Linked DNA regions of Homo sapiens. The protein of the gene in region 1 purifies or fractionates together with the protein of each later gene. This does not show direct contact. Each region holds a gene or a part of one and is shown in the gene's direction. Other genes may lie near its edges.

Evidence for each region. The genes of interacting proteins can lie anywhere in the genome.
Region 2: the proteins of DCAF12 (region 1) and TUBA3C purify together in Homo sapiens (affinity purification with mass spectrometry, with the first as the bait; 2 studies listed by BioGRID). This does not show direct contact.
Region 3: the proteins of DCAF12 (region 1) and ZZEF1 purify together in Homo sapiens (affinity purification with mass spectrometry; one large-scale study listed by BioGRID and IntAct). This does not show direct contact.

The regions. Positions count from the first base shown.
Region 1 is NC_000009.12:34,087,855-34,092,773, reverse strand, and holds part of DCAF12 (DDB1- and CUL4-associated factor 12), read left to right. Parts: intron 1-3,183; coding exon 3,184-3,362; intron 3,363-4,265; coding exon 4,266-4,424; 3' UTR 4,425-4,919. UniProt on the Homo sapiens protein: Substrate-recognition component of a DCX (DDB1-CUL4-X-box) E3 ubiquitin-protein ligase complex of the DesCEND (destruction via C-end degrons) pathway, which recognizes a C-degron located at the extreme C terminus of target proteins, leading to their ubiquitination and degradation.
Region 2 is NC_000013.11:19,179,025-19,183,294, reverse strand, and holds the start of TUBA3C (tubulin alpha-3C chain), read left to right. Parts: upstream 1-1,470; 5' UTR 1,471-1,547; coding exon 1,548-1,550; intron 1,551-3,731; coding exon 3,732-3,954; intron 3,955-4,270. UniProt on the Homo sapiens protein: Tubulin is the major constituent of microtubules, a cylinder consisting of laterally associated linear protofilaments composed of alpha- and beta-tubulin heterodimers.
Region 3 is NC_000017.11:4,017,531-4,021,030, reverse strand, and holds part of ZZEF1 (zinc finger ZZ-type and EF-hand domain-containing protein 1), read left to right. Parts: intron 1-1,261; coding exon 1,262-1,362; intron 1,363-3,059; coding exon 3,060-3,195; intron 3,196-3,300; coding exon 3,301-3,500. UniProt on the Homo sapiens protein: Histone H3 reader which may act as a transcriptional coactivator for KLF6 and KLF9 transcription factors.

The DNA.
Region 1 (4,919 bases):
GGGAGCCACCAGTCAGGATATTAGTTAGTAGTTTCCATGTTCTTTTAGAAAGCTCTACTTTTTTTTTGTTGTTGTTGTTTTTTTTTTTTGAGACAGAGTCTCGCTCTTTTGCCAGGCTGGAGTGTAGTGGCGTGATCTCAGCTCACTGCAACCTCTGCCTTCTGAGTTCAAGTGATTCTCCTGCCTCAGCCTCGCGAGTAGGTGGGACTACAGGCACACACCACCACGCCCAGCTAATTTTTGTATTTTTAGTAGAGACGGGGTTTCACCATGTTGGCCAGGATGGCCTTGATCTCTTGACCTTGTGATCCACCCACCTCGGCCTTCCAAAGTGCTGAGATTACAGGCGTGAGCCACTGCACCTGGCCGAGAGCCCTACTTTCTATCCTGTGGTAATTTTTTTGCTGTGGTCCTGCCTGAACTAAAATTCTATTTATGCTAAGATGTGGCATGGTGGGATAAGGAGGAAGTTTACAAAGGGCATGAGGAAACCTCAGGGTAATGAGTATGTTCATTATGTAGATTGTGGTTATGATGTCATGGATATATACATATGTCAGAACCTCAAATTGTATACTTTATGTGTCGTATATTGTATGACAAACCTCAATAAGGCTGAAGAAAATACTGAGTTTAGTTCTGACCACTGAGTAAATTAAGCTTCCACCTCAAATCTTTTATAACATATTCTCTGTAAGAGCACCCTCATTCTTTATTGAAGAGGGAAAAAATACTTATTTTAGTGTACTTTGAAGGTTTCAAAATACCTTTTTCTGACATGCCATTTCATCATACCAAGAACCCTGTGGGAAGCAGATGAGAAAACATAGTTTTACATATAAGACCTAGAGCCAGCTAAATAACTTGCCCAGCATCACACAGCTTGATGGGGGAACAGCTAGGGACCAGAATCCAACTTAACAAATTGTATTTTCTTTATCTCACTTTATCCCATTTCTCGCTTTATCCCATTTCTCATGCAAAAATATGGCTGTGTTATCCTGAGAGTCCTAAAAGGCACACTGTGGATTGCAGTTCACCCTCTCTTTTTCAAGTAGTGTTTATTCCTGTGCAGATACTGCAAAGTAGCTTTTGTTTTGGGTTTTTTGTGGTTTTTTTTTTTTTTTTTTTTTTGAAGACAGGGTCCTCACTCTATCAGCCAGGCTGGAGGAAAGTGGTGCAATCTCAGTTCACTGCAGCTTTTCCACCTGCCAGGCTCAAGCAGTCCTCCCACCTCAGCCTCCCGAGTAGCTGGGACTATAAGCGTCCGCCACCTCATTCAGCTAATTTTTGTATTTTTGTAGAGACAGGTTCTCATCATGTTGCCCAGAGTTGTCTCAAACTCTTGGGACACCCACCTCAGCCTCCCAAAGTGTGTGCTAAGATTACAGGGATTACAGCCGTGAGCCACTGTGCCCAGCTATTTCTTTTTTGTTGTTGTTGTTGTTGAGATGAGTCTTGCTCTGTCACCTAGGCTGGAGTGGAGTGGTGTGATCTCAGCTCACTGCACCCTCTGCCTCCCAGGTTCAAGCGATTCTCCTGCCTTAGCCTCCTGAGTAGCTGGGACTACAGGCGCGTACCACCATGCCCAGCTAATTTTTGTGTTTTTAGTAGAGATGGAGTTTCACCATGTTGGCCAGACTGGTTTTGAACTCCTGACCTCAAGTGATCCACTCACCTTGGGCCTCCCAAAGTACTGGGATTACAGGCTTGAGCCACCACGCCTGGCCTATTTGTTCTTAATTATAGTTAAAATGCTTACATTTTAGAACAAAGAATAATGTATAATGAGAGTAGTAGAGAAAGGAATAAATAGGGCCGGGCACGGTGGCTGATGCCTGTAATCCCAGCACTTTGGGAGCCTGAGGCAGGTGGATCACCTGAGGTCAGGAGTTCGAGACCAGCCTGATCAACATGGTGAAACCCTGTCTCTACTAAAAATACAAACAAAATTAGCTGGGGGTGGTAGCGGGTGCCTGTAGTTCCAGCTACTTGGGAGGCTGAGGCAGGAGAATCACTTGAATCTGGGAGGTGGAGGTTGCAGTGAGCCAAGATTGTGCCACAGTACTCCAGCTTTGGCAACAGAGCTCAAAAAAAAAGAGAAAAGACTAAATAGGTTTGGCTCTAATAATGTATGCAATGAAAAGTTTTAAGAGATTTTTGGTACTGTTTAATGGGGGTAACTTTCATACCTAATAAGGAAATACTGGTTCCACAAATATTATCCAGTTCTTATGTGCCAAGAGACATCTTCATATCCCAAGCACTGATTTGATCCCCAAGTACAGCAGATGTGTTTTCCTTGTGATCTAAAGTAATTACATGACTTGTCTTAAACATCTTTGGGTATTTAAGTTCTGGGCTTTTTGCCACTCTCAAAACACCTAATACTAGATAAAGACTTCTTGCATTGTGGCCGGGCACAGTGGCTCATGCCTATAATCCCAGCACTTTGGGAGGCCAAGGTGGATCACTTGAGGTCAGGAGTTCAAGACCAGCCTGGCCAACATGGTGAAACCCTGTCTCTCCTGAAAATGCAAGAATTAGCTGAGTGTGATGGCAGGAGCCTGTAATCCCAGCTACTTGGGAGGCTAAGGCAGGAGAATCGCTTGAACCCGGAAGGCAGAGGTTGCAGCGAGCCAAGATCGCGCCATTGCACTCCAGCCTGGGCGACAGAGCGAGACTCCATCTCAAAAAATAAAAAAAGACTTCTTGCATTTGCCACAGTAGTGGTTTTAGGTGAAATATAAGGAATCGTTGATGACTTAATGATTTATAAATATGCAGATTACCTTGAGTTGCAGTGTAGGTTGGAAACATATGATGGAGAAAAGCTTAGAGTTATGAAAGATGATCCCAGAGTGAGTTGAGAGGAAGCAAGGAAGTTCTCAGCACTTATGGTCTTCGGCCAAAAGCATCTTGAGCATCATCGGGAATCTGACACTTTTCCAAGGCTTCTTGGATGGTTTCTGTCAGTGTGTGGATAGGCAGGATGGCATCAGGATTCTCTTTGCTTTTGCATGAGCTAACTTGCCATTGGGAAAACACTGTCTGATACTTTGTGGGGCGGGTGGAGGGGAGCAGGGTGGACGTTGAAAACTCAGTGTTGGAGAAATTCAGGCTAGCAGACAGTCAGCAAATATTCTCTCCCGCCTCACTGCCTTTTACTTTTCTGTCTTTCAGGAATCCGGTCAGTGAGTTTCTACGAGCACATCATCACTGTGGGAACAGGGCAGGGCTCCCTGCTGTTCTATGACATCCGAGCTCAGAGATTTCTGGAAGAGAGGCTCTCAGCTTGTTATGGGTCCAAGCCCAGACTAGCAGGGGAGAATCTGAAACTAACCACTGGCAAAGGCTGGCTGGTGCGTAAGCCCCTACCTGAGATGACTGCTACACAGTAACAGAAAAATTATCTTCCTCTATCTCTCAGCCCCCACTGACACACCATCTACTCATACTTTTTCACTAGTAAGAGGCACTCATTGGAACAGGAAAAGACTTCCCCCGATTTTGCTTTTATGTCTGCACGTTGCCTGTGGGAAAACTGAGGCCCAGTAAAACACACTGGTTGACTTAGGATTTTCCCCAAGGTGTAATAGAGCAAGAAGGATAAGGGACCTCCCACCACAGCTGTCAGTGAATTTTTTTTTTTTTTTTTTTTTTGAGACAGGGTCACTCTGTTGCCCAGGCTGGAGTGTAGTGGTGTGATCATAGCTTACTGTATGTAGCCTTGAACTCCTGGGCTCAAGCAGTCCTCCTGCCTCAGCCTCCCAAGTAGCTGGGACCACAGGCATATGCACTGTGCCCGGCTAATTTATTTTTTTTTAGTAGAGATGGGGTCTCGCCATGTTGCCCAGGCTGGTCTCAAACTCCTGGGCTCAAGTGATTCTCTCACCTTGGCCTCCTAAAATTCTGGGATTACAGCCATGAACCACTGCGCCCCACCTCCAGTGAATTATTCAAGTGTTTGGTTCTTCCTCCTGTGCCTAGCAGGTGGAGGGAAAACAGAACTTTGGTTCTAAGTCTCCTGAGAAGAACTGAGCCTTGTATAGCAATTCTTCAGCTGCTCCGTTCTTCTCTAACGTTTAGTTGGAAAAATGAGGCCCTGATTCCCATGAGAACCAACCAGCCAATCTCCTGACATGAGGTTGTACCTGTAGAACCCTGTTCCCTTAAGGAGACCAGAAAGCATTCCTGTCCCTTCCTCCCCCTTTTCCTGCCCCATGGCTAGAGGTGCTAATTGTAGTCTCTTTCTCTTCCCGTAGAATCATGATGAAACCTGGAGGAATTACTTTTCAGACATTGACTTCTTCCCCAATGCTGTTTACACCCACTGCTACGACTCGTCTGGAACGAAACTCTTTGTGGCAGGAGGTCCCCTCCCTTCAGGGCTCCATGGAAACTATGCTGGGCTCTGGAGTTAATGACAACTCCCCAAATGCAGAGATTTACACTAACTTCCATTCTCAGTTTCCTTGTTTCTTTTGATTTTTTTTTTCCTAATTGTGTGAGGCTCTTGTGTTTTAGTGGGAACACCAAAGTTTGCCTATAGTTTAGGCACTTAATAGGAAGAAGCTCTGTACAGAAATCTGAAAGTTGTTTTGCTTTTTGTTTTCCCCTTTGGTAATCAAAATTTTACTATCTTTTATTATTTCTGGCTTTTCAACCAAACATTGTTGCTAATCCCTATTTTTCTTTAAGTGACACACATTCTCCTGTCTCTGGCTTCTTCAGGCTGAAATGACATAGCTCACCCTTACTTCACTCTTGAGAGGTAGGGCTCCTTTATAATTACATGGTTGCTCTCAGACTTTCTGTGAAAGTTTGGGAGCTGTGTGTGTCTGTGTGTGTGTGAGAGAGAGATCTTGTCTGCGTGTGTGTGTGTGATCTTGTGTGCCTGTAGGTACTGTGTGTCACTG
Region 2 (4,270 bases), on another chromosome or scaffold:
ATGTTATTTTAATATACATTCCTCTGGCCAGGCCAGCCAAGGTGGGAGGCTCCCTTCCGGCCAGGAGTTCAAGACCAGGCTGGGCAACACAGCAAGACTCTGTCTCTATTTGTAAAATTCTTGGTAAACAATTTAGAAACTGCCCCTTCTTTTCCTTTAAAAACCCATTTGTAACTGCTGCTAATTAGAGTGTATATTAAGGCAACTTGCATCTCCAAGGTTGCAGTTCGCAAACTTGGCCCAAATAAACTGTATTTTTTTTTAGTTTTTTATTTTTTGTGAGACGGAATCTCCCTCTGTCACCCAGGCTGGAGTGCAGTGGCACAATCTCGGCTCACTGCAACCTCCACCTCCCGGATTCAAGCGATTCTTGTGCCTCAGCCTCCCGAGTAGCTGGGATTACAGGCACCCATCACCATGTCCGGCTAATTTTATTCATTTTTTATTTTTTGTAGAAACGGGGGCAGGACGGGTCTCACCACGTTGCCCAGGCTGGTTGCAAACTCCTGACCTCAAGCAATCCTCCGGCGGAGGCCTCCCAAAGCACTGGAATTACAGGCCTGAGGCACTGCGCCCAGCCCAACCTCTCCACCTATATTAATTTTACCTCTGCTTCTTCTTTTCTTTTCTTTTCTTTTTTTTTTTAAGACGGAGTCTCGCCCAGGCTGCAGTGCGATCTCGGCTAACTGCAACCTCTGCCTCCCGGGTTCAAGCAATTCCCCAGCCTCAGCCTCCCGAGTAGCTGGGATTACAGGCACGCCCACCATACCCGGATAGTTTTTGTATTTTTAGTAGAGACGGGATTTCACCATGTTGGCCAGGTTGGTCTCCAACTCCTGACTTCAGGTGATCTGCCCGCCTCTGCCTCCGAAGTGATGGGATTACAGACGTGAGCCACAGAAACCCACTCACTTTTTCCTTTCAGATCACAAAAGTGATCGAATCCCGCCACTTCCCGGGTGCTGGGTGGGAAGGTGGGGTGATTGCTGTGCTGCTGTGACTTGGGTAGATGCCGTGAAGGCCTCTCAAAGGCGGCCATGTTTGCAAAGATCTGAATAAGGCACCTCCAGAGGAACCGGTCTGGGGCAACTGGGGAGGAGGCAGCGGCACAAGTTCGTGGTCAAGCCACTGCAAGGCTGGGAGCTTACTTACAAAGCAATGTTCCTCCACCTATAAAGACGCAGTAGCTGCTCCATCCCCGGTCAGAGGACCCCCGGAAACGTCTCAGCCCACGCACTGCCCTCTGACCCCACTGCCTTCCCGCCAGTCCTGCATCCAGTCAGAGGGCCCTCTCTGAGCCTGCTGCCTTCCCGCCAATCCTGCATCCAATCAGAGGGCGTCCCCACTACGTGGTTTGCACAACGGCCAATCAAAACTAGGATCCGAGCCTTGGCCCGCCTCCCAGGACGTCCGGACCAATGGTGGCCTGGCACCAGCAGGCCAATCCCAGACAGCGCACGGCGGGAGGCTGTCGTTGGGCGTGCGCAGCTGCAGCGGCGGTTGAGGTCAAGTAGTAGCGTTGGGCTGCGGCAGCGGAGGAGCTCAACATGGTAAGGCCAGGTCACTCCCACCCCGCAGACGCCCAGGCTGGAGGGTGGACGAAGTTGGCCTCCTGAGGTGGCTGGATGGAGGGATGCTGTTGCGGGCCAGGGTGCAGAAAGGAGGTCAGAGAAGGATGCGGGGCCCAGGGCGGGACACGAGGACACGGCATCGTCTGCTGGGTCTGCGGGCTCCAGGGCAGGGATGGCAGCTTTTGTTTTAGACGAAGCTGCCGGCCTTGAGTCAGTGGACGGGGAGCATTGACCGTGTCCTGTCCCCCAGAGAGCAAACAGTGGTGCCGCCTCCTGAAGACAGAAGGGCGCTGCTCCCGCTTTCCGGTCTCCAAATGTCTCTGTCCTATTGGAAACCACTGAGGAGCCCCAGGAGCCTTGTTGATGGAGGCAAGGGCTGTGGACATTGGTCAGATCAGGAATTAAAGCTCAGACGGGAGTTGGAGGCGGGGAATCCCCTGAGGTCAGGGGCTCCTCACTAGCCTGGCCAATATGGCGAAATCCCTTCTCTACTAAAAATAGAAAAATTCCCGGGGTGGAGGCGTGGATCTGTGGTTCCAGCTACTCGGGAGGCTGAGGTGGGAGGGTCAGCTGAGCCCAGGACTTCGAGGCCGCAGTGAGTCATGATGGTGCCACTGCACTCCAGCTTGTGCGACAGAGAGAGACCCTGCCTCAAAAAAAAAAAAAAGCAACCAACGCATTCACATAAAGAATAGATTTCTAAGTCCCAAGTCTGAATAGCAGTGGCCGTGGTTTGTCAAGTATCTTTTTTTTTTTTTTTTTGAAACGGCTCAACAACAGCTCTGTTGCCCAGGCTGGAGCACAGTTGCACGATCACGGCTCCCTGCAGCCTTGAACCCCTGGGCTCCAGCAATCCTCCTGCCTCAGCCTCCTGAGTAGCTGGGACTACAGGTGTGTGCTGCCACAGCTGGCTAATGTTTAAATTTTTCGGCCGGGCGCTGTGGCTCACGCCTGTAATCCCAGCACTTTGGGAGGCCAAGGCGGGCATATCAAAAGGTCAGGAGATCGAGACCATCCTGGCTAACACGGTGAAACCCCATCTCTACTAAAAATACAAAAAATTAGTTGGGCATAGTGGCCTGTAGTCCCAGCTACGTGGGAGACTGAGGCAGGAGAATTGCTTGAACCCGGGAGGCAGAGGCTGCAGTGAGCTGAGATTGTGCCACTGCATTCCAGCCTGGGTGACAGAGCAAGACTCTGTTTAAAAAAAAAAAATTTTTTTTCATAGTTGCCCAGGCTGGTCTCAAACTGGTCCCAAGCGATCTCAGCTCAGCCTCCCAAAGTGCTGGAATTACAGGCATGAGCCACCACATCCGGCTTGTCAGGGCTTAAAGAAACCACCAAGGACAGTGCAGTGTCCCAGCACTGATGACATCTGGGAGCCATTACACTCCTAGGCTTCAAGGGGTAGAGGGGAGGGAGTGCTTACGAAAAATTGAGAGGGTAACTTTATGAAGAGGGCCACCTGCCAAAAGTGTGGCCTTGATGGAGGGATTTGTATCGCCCATGAAAGGTGAGCAGGAAGGGGCCAAGGGGAGAGTACCCTGACGCCACTCTCCTCCAGCCTCCTGGTCTCCTGCGGCTGCCTGTCATTGAACAAACCAGCACGAAGCCAGAGAGCAAGGAAGGCCTCTGATGCTGTCCTCATGGGTCAGCCTCGGAGAGCACAGGGCGGGTGGTGAATGATGGAGGGTAGATCTGGGGGTGCAGAGAGAGGACACATACTGAACACCTGGGCTTGGACCACAGTGACCTGGGACCTACTCTCTATTTCCTTACCCAACCCCATTACCTTATCCTTTGGTAGGACATAATCAAAAACTGCTATGTATTCTTCAGAGAATTACTGTGACTGGCTATAATGTGGGTTTGATTACTGACATTACATGGCTTCCAAGTTTTAAAATAATCTAATTTTTGTGTAGTGGCAAACATTAGGTTCTAGGGCTACCTCTGGAACTTAGCAGCTGGGATGGTGTAGAGCAAGTAAGTTTTCACAGGGATAAAGGGGTCAGTCACCTAACCCTCCTAGGAAATATCAATTGTGAAAGCACCAGATACTGAAGCAGTATATAAATATTAAATTATAATATTTTGCATACCATATAGCTTCAAGTTGCCTTGAAATGAATGGGTCTACATTTATGTTCTGGTTCACAGCGTGAGTGTATCTCTATCCACGTGGGGCAGGCAGGAGTCCAGATCGGCAATGCCTGCTGGGAACTGTACTGCCTGGAACATGGAATTCAGCCCGATGGTCAGATGCCAAGTGATAAAACCATTGGTGGTGGGGACGACTCCTTCAACACGTTCTTCAGTGAGACTGGAGCTGGCAAGCACGTGCCCAGAGCAGTGTTTGTGGACCTGGAGCCCACTGTGGTCGGTAGGTGCTCGGGTCCTGGATGGCAGCTTTCTTAGGAGGGTGGGAGAGCATCGTCGGTAAGGCCCCATGTGGGCTCCTTTGAATCCTCCTGCAGAAGGTATGAGATAGACAAGCATATTCCCATGGTGTTAACAGAAACTGAAAGGTTCGTGATTAAAGTGTCTGTGAGATTCGGCTCCTAAGTTAGGAAAACCTGGCCTACAGGGAAAAGCTGCTTTGCCAACAGTAAGATGGGCTGTGGAGAGATTCCGTCGTGGCTGCCTCAGCCCTGTTCAGGTGGCCCTGCCTGCAGGGCACAATGGCATTGGTTTCCTCC
Region 3 (3,500 bases), on another chromosome or scaffold:
GTCTGCTGTCCTGAGAATTCACTTCCTAAAGACTCAGTCTTATGTTGTGCAGAATTGATCCAGAAGAACAGAAAAGCCCCACAACAATAGTTCTTAATATTTTGGGTTATAAACTCAAAAGCTTTAGGTCCTCTCTCCCCATAAAATACACATTCAAACATGTATGTAAAATTTTGCACGAATTTCAAGGGCTTACTAAAGCCCTAAGGCTCGTCCATGAACTCTATACGATAGTTCCTTCCTCATAGTTTCTCAGAAATACACTCTTACCTTTACTAGGTAATCTATTCTTCCTCAGAACAATATGAAAAGGATGAGGGCTTGGACTTCAGAAGTTGTGACTAAATGAAGAGTAAACAGAATGTAGCGTAGAATGTCAGAAAAAGCAAATCCCAGCCAGGCACAGTGGCTCACACTAGTAATCCCAGCACTTTGGGAGGCTGAGGCAGGAGGATCACTTGAGGCCAGGAGTTCAAGACCACCCTGGGTAACTTAGCAAGACCCTGCCTCTACAAAAAATAAGACTAGCCAGGTGTGGCATGCGCCTGTAGTCCTGGCTACCCAGGAGGCTGAGGCAGGAGGATCACTTGAGGCCAGGAGTTCAAGTTTACAGATTTTGCAGGAGAGTTTGCATCCCCTGGCACAGAGCATACATGCAATTCTGTATCCATGAATAAGTAAAAGCTATGAATCCAGTTGGCAAAATACAGAAAATGATGATGTCATTGATACTAACAGAAAAACTACTTTGATCAACATTGCTGACAAGTTTAAGTGCAGGTTAAAACTCCTCTTGCCTTTCTACGCTTTTGGGTACTCAGTGGTATGAGCTATGATCACACCACTGCACTCCAGCCTGGGCAACCAAGTGAGACCCTGTGTCAAAAAAAATCAAAAGAAAATACAGTGCCTATGTATGCGCTAGTTGTCAAACTTGAGTGTAAAACAGTTATAGAGACGCTAGCCGTGAATACGATGTGGTAAGTATCTACTGTCAGCATTGTATTTTGTTGACAGGATATTTCTTTGGGGTTTTAGTGTTTTATAATTTCCTTTGAAGTTACAGTCGTAGTGTAGGTGTTATAGTCCATGTTTTGGTGCTTACAATTTTATATGCTTTTTAAACTACCCATATAATGTTCCTCAATTATAACCTGTGGCAGCTTTTGCTATATTGTCTTCTCAGTTTTGAGTTCAGTTGATCAATACCGTATTGAAGCACTGTTAATGGTTCTTGTCTGCGTCCTCCCCTGGCCTCCAGATGGCTCATGATGCCCTCAATGCCCCTCTGCACATTCTCCGGGCCATATACGAACTGCAGATGAAAAAGACCGATTATTTCTTCCTGGAGGTTCAGAAGAGGTAAGGGACATTTCCGTGCAGCTGAAGTGTGGCCAGGGAGAGAATATGTGAGGGCGGGAGGGTGTGCGCCTCCTGGCAGCAGCTTCTGGATCGATCGACGCTCCGACAGGCCGGGAAGCAGTTGCTAGTCCTTTGTAAGGCGAGGTGGGAGGTGGCCTGTGCTACGTTACCTGGATCATCTTCAAAGTGCACTGTGGTTCCTCTTTAAAACTTATGTTTGTAGTCGGCCTCTGAGAGGAAACTCATTTTACAGACACAGAAATTGGGCAGGCACCAAGATGTCTCTCATGTGTAATCCCAGGGAGCAGACAGCACAGAGCAGGAACTTCTGCTCAAGATATTTTTAAAATTAAGAACATTCCCTTTCTCTTGGCCAGGAAGTTCAGAGCTAGTTTTTGGGCCCAACTTTTTAATTTGCGTAGAACTTTACATATCTGCAATCCAGTCTCCTCCATCCCCCGTATCCTAATTTTGACTTCTTACTCATTGTAAATTCTCATTTAATTTTTCTTTTATTTTGTGTTTCGTGTTTCTCTTTTATTAGTTTCTTATATATTGCCTAAAAGCCTTTATGAGGTGAAGCAGGGTTGCATTAGTTAGGGTACAGTCTAAGCTGCGGTAACTAAGAAACCAGAAATATAATGGATCAGGGCAGATAGAATTTGTTTTTCTCTCACATAACAGTCCAGAGGTAGGCAGAGTCTGGGGTGGGTGACAGCTCTGCTCCACAGAGGGACCCAGCAATCCCAGCGTTCTCATTTGTGGAGTGAAAGCTCCCTCGGCCACCCCACCTCTCGGTTCTAGCCCAGAGGAAAGAGGGGAGGTGGAGAAGGGAGTGCACCATTAGTCCAGTAGACTCCAGAGGTGGCACACCACCTCGCTCACCTGCACTGCCCAGAACCCAGGGGCATCAGCACATCTAGCTGCTAACCATGTCTCTAGCTGGGTGACTGTGGCTCTTGCTAAAACTCAGGGAGCTTTAGAGAGAGAGAAGGGCCACCGAGTTTCGGCCAGAGTCGTCCACCTGTTCAGACTGCGTTCAAATAAGGCAAACACCAGGCTGTAACCATTCCAGCTGTTTCTGTACCTCACTTCTGTTTTCTGTGTGTCAGTTTCCTTTTTCTGTTCGTAAACCTCCAACCACAGCAGTGGAGTCACTCTGAACCCATTCTGATTCAGGAGCTGCCCAATTCGGGGATCACTCTTTGCTCATTTAAACTCTGTTAAATTTAAAAAAAAAAGGAGAGAAGGGGAGTCCAGGCATGGTGGTATGAGCCTGTAATCGCAGCTACTAGGGAGGCTGAGGCAGGCAGGAGGATCGCTTGAGCCCAGGAGTTCCAGGCCGGCCCGGGCAACATAGCTCCAACACGTCATCTCTAAAAAAAACAAATAAATTTTTTTTAAAAATGTTTTTTTAATGAAAATAAAACATTTAAATTAATTTTAAAAATGGAAAAGATAGAAAAGGAGAATGGATTTTGCAGGAGAGTTTGCATCTCCTGCCACAGAGCATACATGCATTCTGTATCCATGCATAAGTGAAGGCTGTGAATCCAGTTGGCAAAACACGGAATATGATAATGTCATTGATACTAACAGAAGAACAACTCTGAAGAACATTGCCAACAAGTTTAAGTGCAGGTTAAAACTGGCCTGTCTACACTGTTGGTACTCAACTTTGTGCTGCCCTTCTGCAGGTTTGATGGTGATGAGCTCACCACAGATGAAAGGATACGGTCCCTGGCTCAGCGGTGGCAGCCCAGTAAGAGTCTGAGGCTGGAAGAACAGAGCGCCAAAGCTGTGGATACAGACATGATTATCCTGCCATGCTTGGTATGTCACCCGACCTCGGACCCAAAGTATCTGCACCCCATCCCCCACCCCATACCACCACTGTAAGAAGGCTAGACCTCTGTAATGGTGGTCTTGGGTTTGCAGTCCCGGCCTGCACGCTGTGACCAAGCCACTGCTGAATCGAACCCTGTGACCCAGAAGCTGATCTCCAGCACAGAGAGCGAACTGCAGCAGAGCTATGCCAAGCAGCGCCGTAGCAAGAGCGCCGCCCTCCTGCACAAGGAGCTGAACTGCAAGAGTAAGAGGGCTGTCCGGGACTACCTCTTCCGAGTGAACGAGGCCAC